3 linked regions of the Homo sapiens genome follow. The protein of the gene in region 2 purifies or fractionates together with the protein of the main gene of each other region. This does not show direct contact. Each region holds a gene or a part of one and is shown on either strand. Other genes may lie near its edges.

The links.
Region 1: the proteins of TMUB1 (region 2) and AMFR purify together in Homo sapiens (affinity purification with mass spectrometry; 3 studies listed by BioGRID and IntAct, with this or other methods). This does not show direct contact.
Region 3: the proteins of TMUB1 (region 2) and RNF185 purify together in Homo sapiens (affinity purification with mass spectrometry; 5 studies listed by BioGRID and IntAct, with this or other methods). This does not show direct contact.

The regions. Positions count from the first base shown.
Region 1 is NC_000016.10:56,360,952-56,366,545, forward strand, and holds the end of AMFR (E3 ubiquitin-protein ligase AMFR), read right to left. Parts: intron 3,155-5,594; coding exon 2,970-3,154; intron 2,106-2,969; coding exon 1,958-2,105; 3' UTR 501-1,957; downstream 1-500. UniProt on the Homo sapiens protein: E3 ubiquitin-protein ligase that mediates the polyubiquitination of lysine and cysteine residues on target proteins, such as CD3D, CYP3A4, CFTR, INSIG1, SOAT2/ACAT2 and APOB for proteasomal degradation.
Region 2 is NC_000007.14:151,080,549-151,088,556, forward strand, and holds TMUB1 (transmembrane and ubiquitin-like domain-containing protein 1), read right to left. Parts: upstream 2,946-8,008; 5' UTR 2,886-2,945; intron 2,472-2,885; exon of another isoform or gene 2,216-2,471; intron 2,046-2,215; 5' UTR 2,016-2,045; coding exon 1,627-2,015; intron 1,353-1,626; coding exon 1,001-1,352; 3' UTR 537-1,000; downstream 1-536. Other genes in the region: FASTK (fas-activated serine/threonine kinase), read right to left, coding at 137-218. UniProt on the Homo sapiens protein: Involved in sterol-regulated ubiquitination and degradation of HMG-CoA reductase HMGCR. Involved in positive regulation of AMPA-selective glutamate receptor GRIA2 recycling to the cell surface.
Region 3 is NC_000022.11:31,191,182-31,198,181, reverse strand, and holds part of RNF185 (E3 ubiquitin-protein ligase RNF185), read right to left. Parts: intron 5,499-7,000; coding exon 5,480-5,498; intron 2,714-5,479; coding exon 2,601-2,713; intron 1,247-2,600; coding exon 1,192-1,246; exon of another isoform or gene 1,025-1,191; intron 1-1,024. UniProt on the Homo sapiens protein: E3 ubiquitin-protein ligase that regulates selective mitochondrial autophagy by mediating 'Lys-63'-linked polyubiquitination of BNIP1.

The DNA.
Region 1 (5,594 bases), on a different chromosome or scaffold from region 2:
GGTGTAAAATGGAAGGGCGGACTGAGAACTTCACTTCTTGCATCATTTTAAGCTACTTAATAAGCTCCTGCTCTAAACACTGTGATATGGCTGTTTTGTAATGTGTCAAGACCCTCTAAAATTGATCCAAGTAATTTTCTCTTTTCACACATCAGAAACCTGTGAACATGTGGAATTAGTGGCACCTACAATGGGTGCAACGTGTGAAGTATAATGTAATTCGAGGACAGTAAAATAATCTTTCGCTACACACTTACCTGAAAAAAAAAAAGATATAAATACAAGGGGAAGAAAAATGTAGTTCTGCCTTCCCCAAATACACTACTAGGAAAAACAAAAGTTCCCAATTCAAAAACATGGGAAAAAACCCTCCAACCAAAATAGTATACACAAAATCCAAATCAAAATGGGGTTTAACGTTGGCACCTCTGGAAAAAGATGCCTTAGCTTCCAGCCACACAAAAACATGCCTTAGCTTCCAGCCACACACAACACACCAATAGAGTTTGCTTTTTATTATTATTATTGTTTTACAATAAAAACAAATAGCTATGCTCTCAGCAAAACAAATTAAAAAAAAAAATCACAGAAATTTACTAACAGCATTTCAAGGTAAGGCTTTTGAAAGATTTATTGAAATAAATTATCTTTGCCTAAAAATTTACCTATCACCTTTTTCAATTACTTTTCAACATTCTAAAAACTTTCCGTTATGTAAAATACATTTAAACTTTGCCAATAATTGTGGATAATACTGGATTCTTCCCAAAAGGACTACCACAAAACAAAGCTTTCAAAGAGTAAAAAAAAAAAAAAAAAAAAAAAAAAAAAAAGTAATCCAATGGGGCATAAAACTGAGGTCTGTAACCTATGACTTCATGGTTCAAATCCTTAAAGTTAAACATGTGAAGAATTTGAAGAGATTTGGGACCTGGGCCCTCTCCAAGGCAGGTAGGTTCACACCTTACCTTCTCTGCTGAATTAAACCAGGAATAACACAGCTAGGAAAACGCAGTGCTCCCAGGATAAAAGATACAAAAGTTCTTTTTTATTTCTTTAATAAAGCCCTTCAAGGTTTACTCTCCCATCTTGCAAGGCCCACATCTTGTTCAAGGACCAAACCCACAGGCTTTAGCACTGCCTAATTTACTTCACCAATGAATGAAAACCATAAACCAAAGCTTGCTGCCTAACCACTCCCCAGGTCCAGACGGGACAAGGAAATGCTGAGAGGGGAGGGGACCCATGGGGCACACTCATGAGATGCAGGAGCACCAGAGTTCACGGAAATCAAGCCGGCTTTGGACTGGAGGCTCGGAAAGTCAGTCCCAGATGTAGTGGGACAGAAAGGGGTGACTTCATCACACCCTATAGCCCTGGACTTTCCCCTCCTCTGCTCCAGGTATCGAACCAAGAGTTCCTTTTCCAAGATGCCCTGCTGGCTCAGGGGTGCATGAGCCCGTGGGTCTGGCCTCTGGCACAGTCTACATGCTTCCACAACAACGACAGCAGTTTGATAACAGATGTTACCCCACGACGTGGGGGCGGGCTCACACTGTGCGCCTCCCCCACACTCTTCCCACTGGGTGTGGTGCTCAGGACACCTGCATTTGTGGGACGTACGCATGAGGCAGGAGTAGAAGCTGCCTGCTGCAGGCAGGCGACTGCTCACTTCCTCCTGATCGTCCCCCACCCCAAGCAGTCCAGTCAACACCAGAAGAGATCATACCTACAGTTAAAATTTGCAGTGTTTCTAAGGGGAAGAGAAATGTCACATAGAAAGTATTACAAAGAAGGATTAAATTTATCAGCTGTCCAAACACTATAAGACCACATGCTTTATACAGCGGCAATGCAGTCAAGCCCGCTTTTCCATGGAGCGGGCAGAATTGGGACAGGCCTCCTCCAGTCAGTCGGGCACAGGGCGCAGGAGGCAGCTGAGGAAGGCAAGGGAGCGCTAGGAGGTCTGCTGCTTCTGAAGCCTCCGTTCCGCGGCGGCAGCCAGCATCCTTCGACGCAGGGTCACGGGGTCAGAGGACGCACCTTCCGAGGGGAGGAAGCTCTCTGAGGCCGCATCATCTTCAGAACTTTTGTTCAAGAAACGTCTAGAAAAAACAGAAGACTTTTTCTCTCTCATAGGAGAGATGGGGAGCTGTGGAACACAGCCAGAAGGTTGATTTCACATCTCCCCATGTCCAGGCACCTTCATGAAGCTGTCACTCAGCACCACCCAATGACCAAGACATCCAGCCCCCAACAGATGGGCGCAAATTCTCTCTGCACCAGGGAGGAACCCTTCAGTGCTGTTCCCTGCTGTCTCTTCCTGCCCATCCCCTCCACCCACAGACACAGCACAGAACTCCCACAATCACAGGGTCTGCCAGGGCCCAAACCCACTTGAGGAACACAGTGCTGGCCCTGTCCTTAAGAGCTGGAACAAAACCCCCTCTATCCACAGGACACACCTGCTGTAGCTGCCACCAACCATGGGTGTGTGACGCACAGATGCGCTGAGTGTGTGTACAATGCTCAGCTGAAAGGCAGAGTGGTCAACAGGGAGGACCTGGGAGACAGACGCCAGGGCCAGGCCAGTGCTAACCTCTCCAGCCTCCATTTCTTCAGCTGTATGTCAGCTGAATGGGTTAACAGTGCTCCCTCTTAGAGCTGTTAAAGTAATTCATATAAAGGGCTTAGATCAGGTTAGCACACAAGTGCTCTCTCGGCAAGCGTGGCCAAAGGGGTCCATGGGAGATGACTGACAGTACCAGCATCAGAGGTAGACCAGTGGGGCCCAGTGTTACCAGATGCTCTGGTTTTTTCAAGAGAGGCTTGAAATCTGAGTTTTGGGGTGGCATGTAATGCCGTTTCACTGTTGGCATCTGTTTAAAAAGAGAAGACGGCCTGACAACGGCCTTCAGCCACTAGTTTTTGATCTGGATTATGCCAGGTGGTCTGGAGAAGCGACTCACTTGCGAGCTTGCTGGAGGAGTTCGTCCTTACGCTGCACCAGCATGCGCTGTCTCTCATCAGCAGACTTGGAGAAGCGGCTCCCACGAGCCTCGAAGTCTTCCACCTCACTGGGCTCCACTTCCACCTCGCCGAAGTCCAGCGTCTCCTCCAGGCGAGGACTGAGGTCCAGTGGCACACGCTCGGTCTGGACACGGGGCAGGAAGCAAGGAGGCAGCTGTGAGCACAGGCCTCCCTCCTAAGCAGGTTCCTCACCTACAGGGCACCCCAGACACGGCTGTTCTGGACGCAAAGAGAAGGCTGCTGCCAAGCAGGGAGGCAGAAACTAGGAACCACAAGCTACGGATAATGGAGCAGCAGCTTCCCTGAGGGCAGGCCTGCTGCCTATGGCTTGAGTAGTACTAAGAACAGGACCTGACTCACACAGAATGTTCGGCATCAGAGGGTAAGTAAATGATTACCAGCATGAAAAACGTAAGCACCTTCAAGCTGCACTCTTAGAATACGCTACCAACACGACAACCGTGAGTTTACATCCTGGGAATTTTCTGTTCACTTCTACTAATTGCTCAAACATTTAAACCAGTCTTATCCAATCTTCTGCACAAATTTTATATCCTCAATTGACTCTGAAAACAGAGGTAAAAAGGAAAACTGCTAGGCATCTATTTATTTATTTATTTACAGACAGGGTCTCACTCTGTCACCCAGGCTGGAGTGCAGTGGCACAATCTCTGCTCACCACAGCCTCAACCTCCCCAGGCTCAGGGGATCCTCCCAACTTAGCCTCCCAAGTAGCTGTGACCACAGGCTCGTGCCACCACATCTGGCTAATTTTTGTATTTTTTGTAGAGACAGGGTTTTGCTTTGTTGCCCAGGCTGGTCTCAAACTACTGGACTCAAGCAATCTACCCACCTCAGCCTCCCAAAGTGCTGGGACTACAGGCATGAGCCACTGTGCCCAGCCCTAAGGATCTTTTGAAAAGACACAGGATGGATTATATGGTTCCTTGGCTTTGGTTGAAGCTCCAAAGTCCACGACAATGCCCAGGCACCCCCAGGTCCTAGCAGGTGCCTGACCATCTGCGCTGCTCATGCTCCCAGATGCAGACCTGCGCTGGCCAGGGTCAGCCCATTGCCCGCTTCTAGGCTGTGACAGAATGGAGGTGGGTGCAGCTGAGAGGCAGGCTGTTTTACTTCAGAGTTCCTGCTGGACCTACCCTCACTTTTTCCTGCCTTCAGCTAAGCTCGAGAGGGAACTTCAAGAGAACCATTCGTATCCCCGAGAGTCAAAGGACGGGGGAACTGGTGGCTGCATACACTTGAGAAATCTACAGAAAGAAACTGGCAGGAGCCAATAAAATACAGGGCCAGGGGAGCTGTGACGGGAGCACGTTCACCTTCCACTGACTCCAGACAACACTGTGTGTGTCCTGGAGCTTGGATAGGGCTCCTGCAGGAGGGAACCAACCTAAGGTTGTTGAAAACAACTGTGCCCAAAAGGACCACTTGGAGAGGTAACAGGACCCCCATGAAGGTGGGAGTGGTCATCAATAGCCAGCCCAGGGTCAAAGGAGGAGTTTCTGGGGCCAGATGGGGACAGGGAGATAGTTGGCATAACATGTACACACACACACACAGACACACGTAGTTGGCACAACATGTAGGTACATACACACACACGCACACACACGCTGGAGTCTCACTGTCCTATTCTATCCCTCTCCTCTAAGCCTGACCCTAGAGCAGGTTAGAAAAAATGGTGAGTGAAGAGGCGAGATGTTAGAAAGAAAACAGCCGCCCACCGCAACCCCTGCTCTGTGCAGCTGCATGCCTGACTAATACCAGCCTGAGCGGGGCAGGGCAGAGATTAGAACAGAGGGAGAGTGGAGCTGACAAGCTTACTGGGCTACACTGAGGTTTCTGTTAACTAATTGTTATTCAAGGACTTTGTATTTCTTCACAAATGACCAAAAATGTTGCACAGCAAGGTTCCCTGTGAAATACATACTTTCCTCCATTATATATACATATATATATATAAAATCCAGAACTCTTCATGCTAACTCTAGAAGCAGCAGTGGAAAATCAAGACAGGGACTGAATATGCTGTACCCACAGATGCCCCCAAGCCCACAGCATCCATATCTCAGCTGCGCCAGCTATTCAAAAACTGGAGGCCGGGCGCGGTGGCTCACGCCTGTAATCCCAGCACTTTGGGAGGCAGAGGCGGGCGGATCATGAGGTCAGGAGATCGAGACCATCCTGGCTAACACAGCGAAACCCCGCCTCTACTAAAAATACAAAAAATTAGCCAGGCGTGGTGGTGGGCGCCTGTAGTCCCAGCTACTCGGGAGGCTGAGGCAGGAGAATGGCGTGAACCCGGGAGGCGGAGCTTGCAGTGAGCCGAGATCGCACCACTGCACTCCAGCCTGGGTGACAGAGCGAGACTCCGTCTCAAAAAAAAAAAAAAAAAAAAAAAACTGGAAATGTAGACATGGACCCCTTAGAAGCCATGCACCATTTCACAAATGATGCATAATCCAATTACATAGGTGGATATGAAAATCTTAACCCAGCAACAGATTTGAAGAAGGCCTAGTAGTGTTTACTGTTTCCTCTTTGTA
Region 2 (8,008 bases):
GCGATGGCGCGGAGTCGGCGAAGTCGGGGGCCCCAACACCCACCCCGGCCCAGGGACGCCAGGAGACCGTGGCCGCTGCCGCTAACACCAGCTCCCGCTGCCCTCCCGCAGCCCTCCCCGCAGGCGCCACCCCTACATGACTCCCCGGGCCCTGCGCAGGTCGCTCCCTCAGTCGGTCTCGGGGCCCGGGGGCCGGGTTCCCCCCGCGGCCTCCTCATCGGCTAGCCACCGAGTCCGCCATCTTCCCAGCAGCCCCTAGATAGCCGCCCGGACGCCAATCCCGAAGCAGCTATCGGTCTTCGGAGACGTGGCTCCCGGCAGGCACTGCGAGCCAGGGAGCCGCGAGCCCCGCCCGCGGGAAGTGCGCGCCCGGCGCCGAGGGCGGGGCCACGGAGGCCGGCGCCAAAGCCAGAGCAGAACGCTGGGGAGAAGGGAAGGCGGAGGGCCAGACCCCAGGCGCAGTCCGTGCCCTTCTCTCCCAAGGGGCGAGGACTCCCCGCCCGCCAGCCCGCACACACTCAGACACACTGCAAGAGTGAAAACTTCACAGTTACTTTAATCTGCACGGGTTCCGGGGAACTCCTCTGCCCCTCCCCGCTCCCCTTCACCAGCCTCCCACCGACCTGGCGTCCCCAACTCAGCCCAAGGAGCTGTCAGGGATTGGAGGCGGCTGGGTCCTCCGGCAGAACACTAAGACGGGCCCCCGGGGCGGCCCGGCTCTGCCCGGGGCCGAGGCAGCGACAGCAGATGCCCGACCCCGAGGAGCCCACTCCCAGTGCGGGCTGAGGGTCAGCAGCCCCGGGAGGTGGCCCCGAGCCCCGGCGGTCGCAGGGCGGGGCCTCCGCCAGTCCCGGGAGTCCTCTGCGGCGCAGGGCTGGGCTCCAGGGCGGCGGGAAGAGGCAGGCCGGAGAGGCGGGCCTGGGCAGGCAGCAGCTCCCGCCGCGGCGCGGGGAGCAAGGTCCGGAGGGGCCGGCGACGCTGCCAAGCGCCCGCGGAGGCACTACGGGCGGTACATGGCAAAGGCCAGGAGACTGAGGAGCAGGGTGAAGCCGGCCAGGCCCAGAGTGGCGGTCAGGGGAAAGAAGGGCCGGTACTGGATCTGGCAGTACCAGAGCAGCAGCAACAGCAGGAGCAGCAGGGGCAGCAGCAGGCTGCCGATTTCCAGCCCGGAGGGGCCGGGCTCGGACCCCGGCGGGCAGGGGGGATTTGGGGGACCGACTCTCGTGGACACGTGGCAGTGGAGAACGCAGTTGGGAGGGAGGTGAAGGCTGCCCAGGGTCTGGGTGTCGTCGCCTAGCAGCTGCCCTTGGTAGATGAGTCGCACCTGCTGTTCCCGGCCGGGAAACTGGGTCCTGAGGAGAGAGGGACCTGGGTAAGAGAGCAGGCCTCAGGCAATCCTAGTCCCTGGCCCCGGAACAGCACTCCCACCCTCCCCCTGCCCTCCACAACACACCGGCCCTGGCCTGGGAGGGGCCGTCTGCCAGGGGAACAAGTACAGTTGTGATCTGGGGCGCTCAGCGCCTCCAGTATAAAGGAGGGCTGGGTCTTAGGTGTCTCTGGGGGCCTTCTGCGACCACTCTCCCAACCCCTGTCTTTAGCATTGCTCCTGCCTCTTGACCTACTTACCTTTTCAAGGAGCCAATGGTGTCGTGGGGCCAGGCCCTGGCCACCTGCTCTGAATCATTGAGGAATTTCAGCCGTAGCACGAGGGGCTCCTGCGGGGAGTCCGGGGCTGGCGGTGTTGCTGTGAACCCCGTGCTGGGCTCTGGCTGTGCAGCTTGACCTCTGTGTCTCAGGCTGGGGGTCTCTGCCCCTGGGGCCTCCCCTCTCATGCTGTCGGTAGCTGCCATGGCTGCGCTGGGCTGGGATGGCGTTGGGGTCCCTGACGGCTGGGGCAGTGGGTCCCCGCCCTCAGCGGTGTGCGTTGAGACCCAGGCAAGGGCCAGCACCAGAAGGCAGGCAAGCACCGAGAAAAGGACGGTCACCTCATCACCCACCCCTTCAATCAGGGTCATGGCGCCTGCCTTGCCCGCCGCGCTACCGAGCTGGAGAGGCACAAAGAGCCCGTGAGGCCCGGGCCCCCTGGCCAGGAGCCCTGGAACCTCCACAGGGTCCTGCCCTCACCCCACCGCGACGCTCCCACCGTCCTCAGCCTCCGTCCCCTCACCCACCCCAGGGTACCGGCTTCTCTGCCTCCCAGTCGCCCCAAACTTGCCTCCGGGTGCCCCTTCCCATCGCCGAATCCCAAGTCCTAACTTTCTGTCATCTGAGCTCGAGGTCTTCAACCAGCTCCCAACTCACCCAAACCCTATCCCAAGGTAAGGGCCTAAGCAACGCCTCTCCTAAACTTCACCCCAACCAAACTTCACCCCCAAGCGTATCTATTCTCCTGCCCACTTCACCCCAGTGTGTCTACTCCTTCACCGACTTCACCCCAGGCTCATCTACTCCGCTGCTAAAGTTTCTAAGAGGTGGGGGTAGAGCCTCTGTGCCCCCACCCCCGCCCCCCGCGTTACGGTTCACCTAAACCCCACCCGCGGCACAGGACTGCTTCCCAGGCTTCCCCCACAGCAAACGTCAAACTCCGCCCCTGGGCAATCTGGAGCCACCGAGCGTCACCACCCACCCAGCTCGGCCCCCTCCAGGTCCCCTCAACCCCACTCCGCGGAGGACTAACTCCGCGCCTCCTCTGGAAGTCTCTCCAAGCCCCCCGGGCTGCCTGACCCCAGATCCCGCCCGGAATCCGAGACTTCACGTTCCCCACCCCCACCTCTCATCACCCCTCCCACCTTCCCGCCCCCCGAAGCCGCAGGAGGGCACGGCGATCCCGGCCCGACCGGGGCCCTGGGCGGCGGGGTGGGCGCGGTCACGGCGCGGGGACTCACCGCCCGGCTCCCCCAGCTCCATCGCGGCCCCTCGGGCACTTCCGGGCGGGAGGCGCGGAGGTCGCAGGCACCTGAAGCACCCCTCCTTCCCCGCCGCCGCGGCCCGGGGCATTGTGGAACTTGTAGTCCGGCGCCGCGCTGTCCCCGCCCTCCGCCCTGCGGACCCACGTGTGGGGCTCCACCCGCGGTTCTCTGCGCCTGCAGATCGCGAAGGGGCTGGCGGGGGCGGTTTTGGGGGTTGTGCTACCCCCTAGAGGTTTGGGCGGCAGCAGCGTCCGCCCCCTCCCCTGCCAACAGCCAGGGCATCTATCACACCAGACACCGACGTCAGCTGGAGCACGTCAGAGTACCCGTGTTCGTGATGCAGTGTGGAAGGCTCTGAGGAACTCAGGTGGCCCCTACTGTTATGTCAGAGTGGACGCCAGAAGGCACTTTGGCCACCAAAATTAATTCTTCAGCCCAGAGCCCAATATCCATGGGCTGCCCCACCAGGCTGGCTAGGGATACCCATCCTCAGGGCTGCCCCTTTCCTTGGTCCCCTCCTCCACCTTCGGGACTCCACAGCCCCTTCAGGGCTGTGGAAGAAGCATAGACCTTGGAACCTGGCAGAAATCCTGATCCCTTATCTTGTGCTTCTCAGCTATATGACCTTGGGTGGGTTATTGAATCTCTCTGAACATTAATTTCTTCCTCTCTAAAACACACCTCGTAAGTCAATCATAAGGAAGAAATTAGATGTTTTATTAAAAAGTGTAAAAACTAAGGTACATGTCACACAGTAGCTATTCGCTCACCTCCACCCAAACCTGGTCTCAGGAGTCGGGTCTTTGGTGTGTTACTGTGTGGATGGCATTGAATCCCAGGCCTGTGGATATCTGGATTTTTCCCTCTGGGCTCCTGTAGCCACAGAGATCTCACATCCTGGTTTTTACAGGCCAGTCTTGATTTAAAATAATCTATCCTAGTCTTCCCATGGTTCTTGCCTACTGTGGGAGCAAGTGGCCCAAATATTGCCTTAGGAATGTCAGTCTAGATTGATACCATACAGAACTAACCTACCTCTAGTTCCATCCCTCCTGTTCATTCATTTATTCTACTAACATATTTTTTAAAAGATGTACTATGGCCAGGCGCAGTGGCTCACGCCTGTAATCCTGGCACTTTGGGAGCCAAGGCAGGCGGATCACTGAGTTCGAGACCAGCCTGGCCAACATGGTAAAACCCTGTCTCTACAAAAAAAAATACAAAAATTAGCTGGGCGTGGTGGCGGGCGCCTGTAATCCCAGCTACTCGGGAGGCTGAGGCAGGAGAATCATTTGAATGCGGGAGGTGGAGGTTGCAGTGAGCTGAGATCGAGTCACTGCACTCCAGCCTGGGTGACAGAGTGAGACTCCGTCTCAAAAAAAATTACACACACACACACACACACACACACACACACACACACACACACTATATCCCAGGCATTGTGCAAGATACTGGGAATAAAATGGTGAATCAGACCCTCTTCCTGCCCTCATGTGGCTCCATATACTAGTAGAAGAGCTAGACGTGTGAACAGCCCAACAGTGCTATAACACGTGTGTGCTAGTTGCTGGGGCAACACATTTGAGGAGCTCTTTGCTCTTAGTGTCTCTCTTGGGAGGTATACCTGGTGCTACTTCCTGCTGTCAATTCTAATTAAGCACCTAAAAGAGATGTTGGATGTTACTTTTAGAATTATACAACATCAGAACTAGGTTTTATGTTCAACCACTATATTTCGCAGATGAAACCCAGAGAGGGCACAAGATATCCTTAAGCTTATGCAGGGAGATAGAAACACAGGTTCCTCAGGAGCTTAGGAGACCCTGTGTGTTGATTAGCTTGCACCAGGTGCTTTGGAAGGTACAAGGAACTCGGGAATAGTGACTGGGTTGGTTCTGGGGCTGAGTTGTGTGGGTAATCAAACAGTGGACAGCTTCATGCTGGGAAAAGATCCAGCTTGGCCAGGGAAGTGGAAGTGTGCGTAAGAAGGACGATGTGTGTCACTGATGCCCTAGGATATCTGGGGGTAGCAGATACCCTGCAACATCTCTGGCAGATTTATTGGCTGCGGCCTCTGCAAATGTCACCTCTTGTAGGTTTTAGGAAACGTGTGTGTGTTGGTGGGGGGGAGGGGGCTAACAGAACTGCAGCCCACTTTGGCAATGGGACTGCAGAGGAACTGGGACATTTCAGGGAGCTCCCTGGCCCTAGAGGGAGTGAAAGGACAGGATGGACAAGGGGTGAGGACAAGAAAAATTGAGAGCCACGTGGGCTTTGGTTGGTCTCTCCAATGGGATGAGTAGGGGAGAAAGGCATATACTATTTCATCCCTCCCTCTTCTTCCTCTATGTACCAATGGGGTCGGGTAGCATTTAGCTAATCTCCCAAGTCCGGCAGGGGGAGGGTCTTTTAGGAGAGCACTGCTGCAGCCGGCAGTGGAGAGCCTGGGCAGGGAGACAGGGAGAAAACTCCGGCAGCAGGGTGGTCTCTAGGGCTGACCTCGGAGCCTGGGGACAGGGGAGCCTATGCCGCACTGAAGGCGGGACGCTGTAAGCGAGGAGCAGCTGGGCCTGGGCGGACTCCTCGGCCAATCAGCCTCGGTCAGCAGCACCCTCAGGCGCAGGGCACTGTTTGGGCATTGCCTAGAGATCCGACACCCCGCCCAGATCAGCGCAGGGAGGCGAAAGCGACAGCCGGGCGCGGGAGGAGACCAGGGCAGCTGTCCCCTCCGCGAGGGTGGCCCTCGAGGCAATGCGGGTGGGGGCTGGTGAGGAGGCGGAAGGGCCGAGGCTGAGTGGGAGGGGCCGGGGCGCCAGGGCTGGAGCGCGCGGCTCGGGGGTGGAGGCTGCAGAGCCAGCGAGCGAGCGAGGGGCGGGGGCGCCCGGGCCGGCGCGCAGGAGGGGCGGGGGCGGCGGGGAGGGGGGCTCGGGCTGCGTGTGCCGGAGCCGGCGGGGGCGGCGGTGCGTGCGCATGACGCGGGGGGAGGGCCTGGGCCGCGCGCTCCCGGTCCCGTTGTTGTTGCCGCTGGAGGCTGCTCCGAGGCAGCGGGATCACGGCGCTGGGAAGCGCTCGGCAGCGGCGGCCACAGCGTGCGCGGCGGCGCCTCCTGGCCTCGGCCTCCGGCCCCCGGCCCCCGGCTCCATGCGCTAGCCCCGCGCCGCCAGCCCAGTAGTCCCGGCCCCGCCAGCCCCGCGCTCCCGCTCGCCGCTGCCGCCGCCGCCGCCGCCGCCGCCTCCGCCGCGCCGCCCCGGGCCCGCCTCGGGCCCCACGGCTCCGAAGCCATGAACTTCCAGGCGGGCGGGGGGCAGAGCCCGCAGCAGCAGCAGAGCCTGGCGGCTCCGGGGGGCGGCGGCGCTGCCGCGCAGCAGCTCGTCTGCGGCGGGCAGTTCGGCGGCGCGGGGCCCGGGGCCGGGGGCGGCGGCGGCCCCTCGCAGCAGCTGGCCGGCGGGCCCCCCCAGCAGTTCGCGCTCTCCAACTCCGCGGCCATCCGGGCCGAGATCCAGCGCTTCGAGTCCGTGCATCCCAATATCTACGCCATCTACGACCTGATCGAGCGCATCGAGGATTTGGCGCTGCAGAACCAGATCCGGGAGCACGTCATCTCCATCGAGGGTGAGCGGAGCCGGGGGCTGCGGGAGCCGGGGCGCAGTGGCCTCTCCGGCGCCGGCCGAGGGCTCCACAGGCCGTGCCTGGCCATGCTCTCCCTGTCGGGGGTCCTTGCGCGCTTGAGGACCAGGCCACGAGGTTTGCCGATCTGTGTTGCAGAACCGGCGGGCAGCTTCGCCATATCTCGTTCGGGGACACTTTGGGGTTGGGGGTTTTCTGCTGACTGTGTTCCAGGGCGCGAAGGTGGTGTCGCTTGGGGGGGCCGGGACCAGATCTGTCCAGGCCTGGCCGGGGAAGGTGGGCGCGGCAGAGGGCTTCAGCTGCGGGGAGGTGGGGTCGTGACCGGGGAGGCTTCTTAGCCGCTGCCCGGGCCCTGCTCCGCAGTGGGGCGGGGGATCGGAGCCTCGCGTTAGTGGATGGCAGCCTTCCCGGGCCCAGCGCCCGCAGGCCCGGAGGGTGGCGCTCGCCGCGGCGCCCTCTCCCGACGCACACCCCCTACGCCGCGGCGGCCAAGCGGGAGCGGGCCGGGCCTGGCGCTGGGCTGAGGCTCAGCGACCGCGTGGGAGGCGCCGGCAGGTCCATCCGCGCTTTGGCCGGGTCATGAGCCTGACGGGGATCCGCGGCTCCTCGGTCTGGAGGCAGCTGCTGGGCAGCCGGGTGCTGACCGACCGCCAGGGACACCGCACCCGGAGTCGGGGACCGGAAACCCCCGGCCACTGCGCTGCCTAGCGCTTTTTTCTCTGGGCCCTTAGGCCCTGGACTTTCGACCGCTGAGGGCACAGGAAGTGGTGGCACGCTGCTGGCAGATGCCTCGCAAGCCCTGGTGTGGTGGGTGCTGGAGGCACCCGCAGGCACCCCGGTGGCATGGTGACCTTCGAGCGGGCACGGACAGATGGGCCTCACCCTGGGCCATCTGCTTCCTCCCCCAGCTCTGTTTGAAAGGGGACGCCCACCGGCAGGTGGTGGGTTTGGCCTCAGTGGAAATGCAGTGAGAGCCAAGGCCTTTTGCGATAACATGGAGTTATGGGCAGGGGCCTGTCCCTGACTTGGGCCTTAAGGTTAGGGCCCCACTCCCAGCTTCATCTGCTTGCCTGAGGTTCTGGGGGATAGTGCACCTGAACACCTCCCTTTCTGCTTTCAGAGGTCCCCATAGCCGGGGAAGAAGTACTGGGTCTGGGGGGACCCCATGTGGTGCTGGGTTCTATCTTTTGTTGTGACATGCCAGTCTGACTTCCTTCTGCCTTTTCCCAACCCGTTCTTATTTCTTTCCTCTCAAGGCTGAGTTCTCTGTGAACTAATTAGGTGACAGAAAAAACTCATTAACGTGGATCTGAGTAAATGGCCTGAATCACCGCTGTGGCTGGGGACTAGGAGATGGCATTTGTGCGAGCCCTGGGCCCCAAAGACAGGAGATGACCAATTTTTCCTCTTAGATCTGAAGAGGGTGGAGGCGGGAGAGACATCGTTGCTGCAGCTTCACTGTCCTTGGA
Region 3 (7,000 bases), on a different chromosome or scaffold from region 2:
CCAAAATTAAATTTTAAAGCAAACAGAATGGTGATGGCTACATAAAAATACATATGCACAGCCTACAGATGAAGAGAACATGAGGATATGAGAATATACTTGTTCTGGGCTCTTGGCAATGGTGGGTAAATATTTTGCTTTTAAAATTTCTTTAACATTTTAACAGAATTTTTTTAAGAGTAACATTTGATGTAAATATGCAAAAAATGTAAATGTTTTTGTTCCTAGCCACTAGACCACTAGAGACAAATGTGCAATTTTTTTTTAGCCAGTAATCTTACTTCTAAGAATTTATCCTAAGCCAGGTACAGTGGTTCACGCCTGTAATCCTAACACTTTGGGAGGCTGAGGTGGGAGGATTGCTTGAGCCCAGGAGTTAGAGACCAGCCTGGGCAACATAGTGAGACCTTGTTTCTACCCAAACAAAACAAAACAAAAAAAAGAAAGACAAAAAAAAACTCAAAAAACTAGCTGGGCATGGTGCCGTGCACCTGTGGTCCCAGCTACATGGGAGGCTGAGGTAGACTGAGCCCAGGAGGTCGAGGCTACAGTGAACTGTGATCACACCACTGCACTCCAGCCTGGGCTACAGAGTGAGACCCTGTCTTATCCTAATAAAATAATAATGAACATGCTCACAAATTTATCTGTAAGTTCATCAGGATTTTTTTTAACTTGGAAAAAGAAAGCCGCTAATGTCTAACAAAGGATTGAATTATGTTAAATCCACACAACTAAATGCTAAACAGCTAGTTAGTAAAATATTGCTGGCAATGTAAAATCTCAAGATAATACTAAAAGACTCCCACTCACACAAAGAAGGTACTAAGTATCTGTAGAACAAATGAAATTTTAAGAGAGGGTTACAAAACAGGAGCCACATATTGTAAAAAACAAAAAACAAAAACTGTAAAAAGTATACACACATCTGTAAAATACACGCACAGATTTGTAAAATTTGTGTGTATATATAATTATAGAAAAATGGAAAAGAAAATAGAACCAAAATGTTTCCAGTGGTTACCTCTGGATTGGTGTGGTTATAAGTGATTTTTTTCCCCCTCTTTTCCTTTCTGTATTTTACAAGTTTTCCTTTACTTTTATAATCAAGGAGAAAAATTGTAAGGCTAAGAAGGAAACTTCTAAAGCCATCAGCTCATTTGTAGAAGCTTCTCCTAGAATGTTCCTCACCCCTCTATTCTCCGGCTCTGGCCTCTGTCCTTGAGGACGAGGAGGGGTCTTCTCTCTGAAACAGAAATGGTGTAAAATAAGTCTATTACAAATTGCTTTGAGTTGCTCCCTGTGAGGACCTGGAGCTCTTTACCAACAGGGTCAGGGCCATAGCCTCTTTCTTGTCCAGGACATGAACTTATGCCAGATTAATTCTCCAAATACGAACTCTTCATTCTACCTGCAACTGTTCTTCCCACGTGTATAGAGAACCAGGGAGAAAATCAACTCGTTATGAGATATTCACCAGATTGCACTACAGCCTACTCCTCTTACAGAGATCCTGACTCAGATCGGTTAGGAATCATGGCCAGATGCCTTCCCTGGGCCTGTTACAGATAACAGAAATCCCAAATCCATACTGGAACAGAGGGTGGGTTGTCAGCAGTAAGGGCTGAGGTTCATGGTTTCTCTGACCTTCCCCTATTAACTTCAGCTCTATCTCCTACTATTCTTGGGCAAATACCCAATGCTATTATTTTTGAGTCTCACCCCCTCAAATCACTCAACCCATGAATACTCAATTGAGGGCTTAGTTATACAATAAGCATTATGCAGGATGCTGTAATACTGATGACAGACCCAACCCTTGAAGTGTTCATGGTTTCAAGGGGGATAAAGCCAGTCATATGACACTGTGGTGGGAACTGGGTGAGAGCAACTAATGTGAAGAAGACAGACCACTTCAAGGAAGAGGGAACTTTAGGGCTGCTCATAAGAGATGAGTAGAAGTTAGAGGAGCAGGTGGGGGTAGAGGGGTAGCTTGAGCAGGACTGGGGAGGGAAGAAGGCAGAAGAGAGAGCAAATACACAGGCTGATAAATGTGAAAGAGCAAGTCCCTTTAAGAGAAAGTCTAATATGTCGGGTACACAGCATATGCTAGGGTAGCTGGATAAAGGTAAGAGATTCTTCTGGAGAGCTTGGGGATGCCAGACCATGAAGGGCTCTCAATACTTGTGTTTGTTGAATGCTGGACCCATGCACATCTCCATTTCTAGAAATCCCAAACTCCACAAAGTCACCCAGATCCTGTTTCCCCTCCCGCCATGCTTTATACATCACTGATGCAGCAACCCTGCTCCCTGGAGCCTCTCCTGCTACATATCCTGCTTCCCAGGTTGCAGAAATGCTCTTTCACAGGGCTCTGCACACTTGTGATTGTGATGTCTGTTCACTGCTGGGTCCTAGCAAGTGGCAACTTGGATCCCCTCTCTTCCCTCCCCTCCTAGCTGACTCTCATCTGGATGAGACTGCTTCGAAACCAAGAGATCATCTAGTACTAAGTAAAGGGTGGGGTTAGGGGATGCTGAATGGGAGTGAATTCACATCCAAGGGGAGAAGTGGTTGGGAGAGGCATCCTGAGTCCTCACCTGGGGTCCTGTTGCCCAGTGCTGCCCCTTCCATAGAGGGGGATGACCTTGTCTCGGCTGATGCCAGCTTTGCAAACAGGACACACCTGTCTGTTAGGTCTGGTCTCCAACCACTGCAAACAGGAGAGAAAAATGCATGTGGATGGCCCAAGACCCACCAGAGTGATCAGCCAGAGCCACCAGAACAACACAGGCCAGAGGCCTCAAACTGGGAAACACCAGCATGAGCAGGGAACATCTCAAGGAACCTGACTCCCATTCCTTCTCCTACCATTCAGCAAATACCTACCAGTGGTAAAATCAAAATTGCCTTTAAATATCATCATAATTGGCCGGGTGCGGTGCTCATGCCTGTAATCCCAGCGCTTTGGGAGGCGGAGGTGGGTGGATCACCTGAGGTCAGGAGTTCAAGAGAAGCCTGGCCAACAAGGTGAAACCCCGTCTCTACTAAAAATACAAAAATTAGCCAGACATGGTGGCGCATGCCTGTAGTTCCAGCTACTCGGGAGGCTGAGGGAGGAGAATCGCTTGAACCCGGGAGGCGGAGGTTGCAGTGAGCCGAGATTGCACCACTGCATTCCAGCCTGGGCAACAGAGCAAGACTCTGTCTCAAAAAAAAGAAAAAAAATCATCACAATTAGGCTTCTTCATGCTTTGTTTCTCTCTAGGGCCTCCTAGCAACACAGGGGGAGGGAAACTGCAAGTCTGGGGCTGTCAAGTCTGACATGCCCAGCCTCAATTTAGGCTGCTGGTGTAAGTACAGCAAACTTTAAATCCCCACCTTCCCAGTAGGAGCAACTGTATTTTCCTGTCAGTCATATTCTTCTTTCTGTGATTTCTCATTTTTTTTTCCCCAGACAGAGTCTTGCTCTGTCACCCAGGCTGGAGTGTAGTGGCATGATCTCAGGTCACTGCAACCCCTGCCTCCTGGGTTCAAGCAATTCTCCTGTCTCAGCCTTCCAAGTAGCTGGGATTACAGGCGCCCACCACTGCGCCCAGCTAATTTTTGTATTTTTAGTAGAGACAGGGTTTCACCATGTTGGCCAGGCTGGTCTCAAACTCCTGACCTCGTGATCTTCCTCCCTTGGTCTGCCAAAGTGCTGGGATCACAGGCATGAGCCACCGCGCCCGGCCAATTTCTCATTTTTATAGCATTTTCCCAACAACTGTGTATCCCAGGCATCAGAATCAGGAGATAAGCTGATCATTTTCTGGTGACTTACCACATGCTAAAGGATAGGTTTTGCTCATTATCTAAATTTGCTTAATGCTTTTTGTGTACTTTCATTGATTTTTTGCATTCACCTATTTCTTTCAATATAAAAAAAATCCCGTTTTGGGTTTCTCAGGCCCTTTCACTGGTTACATTAAAATTTTTTGTTTAGGCCAGGCGCGGTGGCTCACGCTTGTAATCCCAGCACTTTGGGAAGCTGAGGCGGGTGGATCACCTGAGGTCAGCAGTTCAAGACCAGCGTGGGGAACATGGTGAAACTCCGTTGTCTCTACTAAAAAGACAAAAAAACTAGCCGGGTGTGGTGGTGTGCACCTGTAATCCCAGCTACCCAGGAGGCTGAGGCACAAGAATCGCTTGAACCCGGGAGGCGGAGGTTCCAGTGAGCCGAGATCTCACCATTGCACTCTAGCCTGGGCGACAGAATGAGACTGTCTCAAAAAAAAAAAAAAATTAATTTTCTTAAAAAAACAAGTGATAAAAAATGTTTTTGGTTTGTTTTTGTTTGTTTTTTGCTTGTTTTTGATTTTTTTTTCGGTTTTTTGGTTTTTTTTCTCGAAACAGAGTCTCACTATGTCACCCAGGCTGGAGTGCAGTGGTGCAATCTCAGCTCACTGCAACCTCTGCCTCCCAGATTCAAGCGATTCTCGTGCCTCAGCCTCCCTAGTAGCTCGGACTATAGGCGTGCACCACCACGCCCAGCTAATTTTTATATTTTTTGTAGAGACGGGGTTTTGCCATATTGGCCAGGCTGTTCTCAAACTCCTTGCCTCAAGTGATCCACCTGCCTTGGCCTCCCTACGTGCTGGAATTATAGGTGTGAGCCACCACACCCGGCCAAAATGTGTTTTTATAGACATTCTATAAACATGAATCTAGGACTTCAGGGCTGAGGAGATGGCAGCACTGAATGATTTTATTTACTACTCTTACTGTTCATAGCTCCAAAACTTAATGTGTTATGTGTTCTTCATAAACTCATAGTCAATATGTACTACCAGGTCCCGCTGGGGACAGAATGTGCAGCCCTGTTCCCACCTTCTTTCTCCCATCCAGATTCTGAAGCTTTAGCAGTCTGGAACTTCTGTCCTCCCCCACATTCCCAGGCCACCTACGAGTGTGGTACTCTACTGCTGACGACCAGGGAGACTTTCAGCAGGCTGTGATTATTCACAGCCACTTGTGAATGCCAGGCCCAGCTCTGTCTCACCAAGTAGGTGCTAAAGCTAGGAAAATAGACTTTTCTCTCCTCACAAAAGCTCTTTGTTGACACCAAAAAAATTTTCCCCTTCCTAATATTTTCATAACCTTTAAGGGCTGGGGGACTGTTGATATGATAGGAGGCACTGTTTTAATAGAAGCAGAATCTCAAAAATAAAAAGGACCTAACTAACATACTATCAATCCAATCCAATTTATAAATGAGTAACTGAGATCCAAAAAGGCCCTCTGTGGCAGAATTAGGACCATCCCGATTTCATCAAGTGTCTGTCAGTGGACAGGTATGTAAAGAAGGCTGTGGGGGTAAGTAAGCAAATGAGCCCACAAGCAGGGCAGATTGCAGCTTCTGAAAGCAGTCTCCTGAGACTAGGGCTCTCTTGTGCAACCAGAGCTGATGAAAGACAAAGTAAAATGAAATGCATCTTACCTGATGTAAACACGGCCAACTGCCAGAGTCCCCAGGGCAACCAGTCATCAAGGAGAAGGAGAAAAGGGGAAAGGAAGAAAAATGTTTTCATTAGCAGAAACACTTGATGGGTGGAGTGGTAGTAGCAGAATGAGAAAACAGGAGTAAACTATGGAGCACTGCATGCCCATTGAGGTTCTGTAGGGATTACTGGTATCGGAAATTAAAAAAAAACTGGGGTAAAAATCACAGAAAATAAATAACGCAATGGAGATAAGACCCCAGCCTCTGCCCCTGAGATCTCAGTATATGTGAAATCCCCAGGGCTCAGACCACACAGACCCAGCTTCTCTACAAATCACCCTGTGAGAGGTTACAACATCTGAAGGAATCCAATAAAAGCTAAGGACACCCTGTGCAAAAAATTGATGGGGGCATTCACATACACATGTACTACACACTATTTTACACTCAATTTCAGTGGGTTCATAGTCTCCTCGGGCTCACAAGGGATGTGTGGACTCTCAGGTAGTCCAGATCCAGTTTAACAAAATCTTCAGGCTGTCCTCATCCTTGAGAACTCTCCTAGCAGGAAGCAGCTTAAAAGTTCAGGTCTACTCTAAAAGCATCTTTAAGTAATAGAAAGGATGGGGATGCTACTTGACAGAAAGGGTTACCTTCAGCTTAGAGAGCTGCTGTCCAATCTCTCTCCATTTTCAAATGAGGAAACCAAAGCTCAGAAACATAAAATGAACTGCATCAGGATTAAAAAAAAAAGTCTCCTGACTTCTAGTTCATTGCCCTTTCTATAATCTAACACCACATACAAAAAAAAAATGATATCTACAGAATTGAAAGAAAAGTATTCAACTCCACTTTTTTTTTTTTTTTTTTTTGAGACGAAGTTTTGTTCTTGTTGCCCAAGCTGGAGTGCAGCTCACTCAGCTCACTGCAACCTCCACCTCCCAGGTTCAAGCGATTCTCCTGTCTCAGCCTCCTGAGTAGCTGGGATTATAGGTGTGTGCCACCACGCCCAGCTAATTTTTTGTATTTTTAGCAGAAACGGGGTTTCACCGTGTTAGTCAGGCTGGTCTCAAACTCCTGACCTCAGGTGATCCGCCCACCTTGGCCTCCCAAAGTGCTGGGATTAAAGGTGTGAGCCACCGTGTCTGGCCCACATTTTTAATTTCTTTCTCTCGTTTATTTAGTTAACACATATCTACTGTGTACCTACTATGTAGGCCAGGACAGTGGAAAATGCAGGCATGGCTTCTGTACCTCACATACCAAGTATCTTTAGCTGAGTACACTTTGAACTCAAAGGATAGTTCCTTTTCCAATTCCTGAACCACAGTTTAGCTTCACAAACCAAATACACAATCTTCCTGGCCATAACATCTGACTCCAACATTAATCTTGCAATGTCATTCTAAACTGAGTGGAGAATAACCCCAAATCATGGCAGATCTCCACTGGCAAGTTCCCTTAAAGACTCTAGGGGAGAAGTGGAGGTGAATGAATGACCCTCAGGGGAAAGTCAGG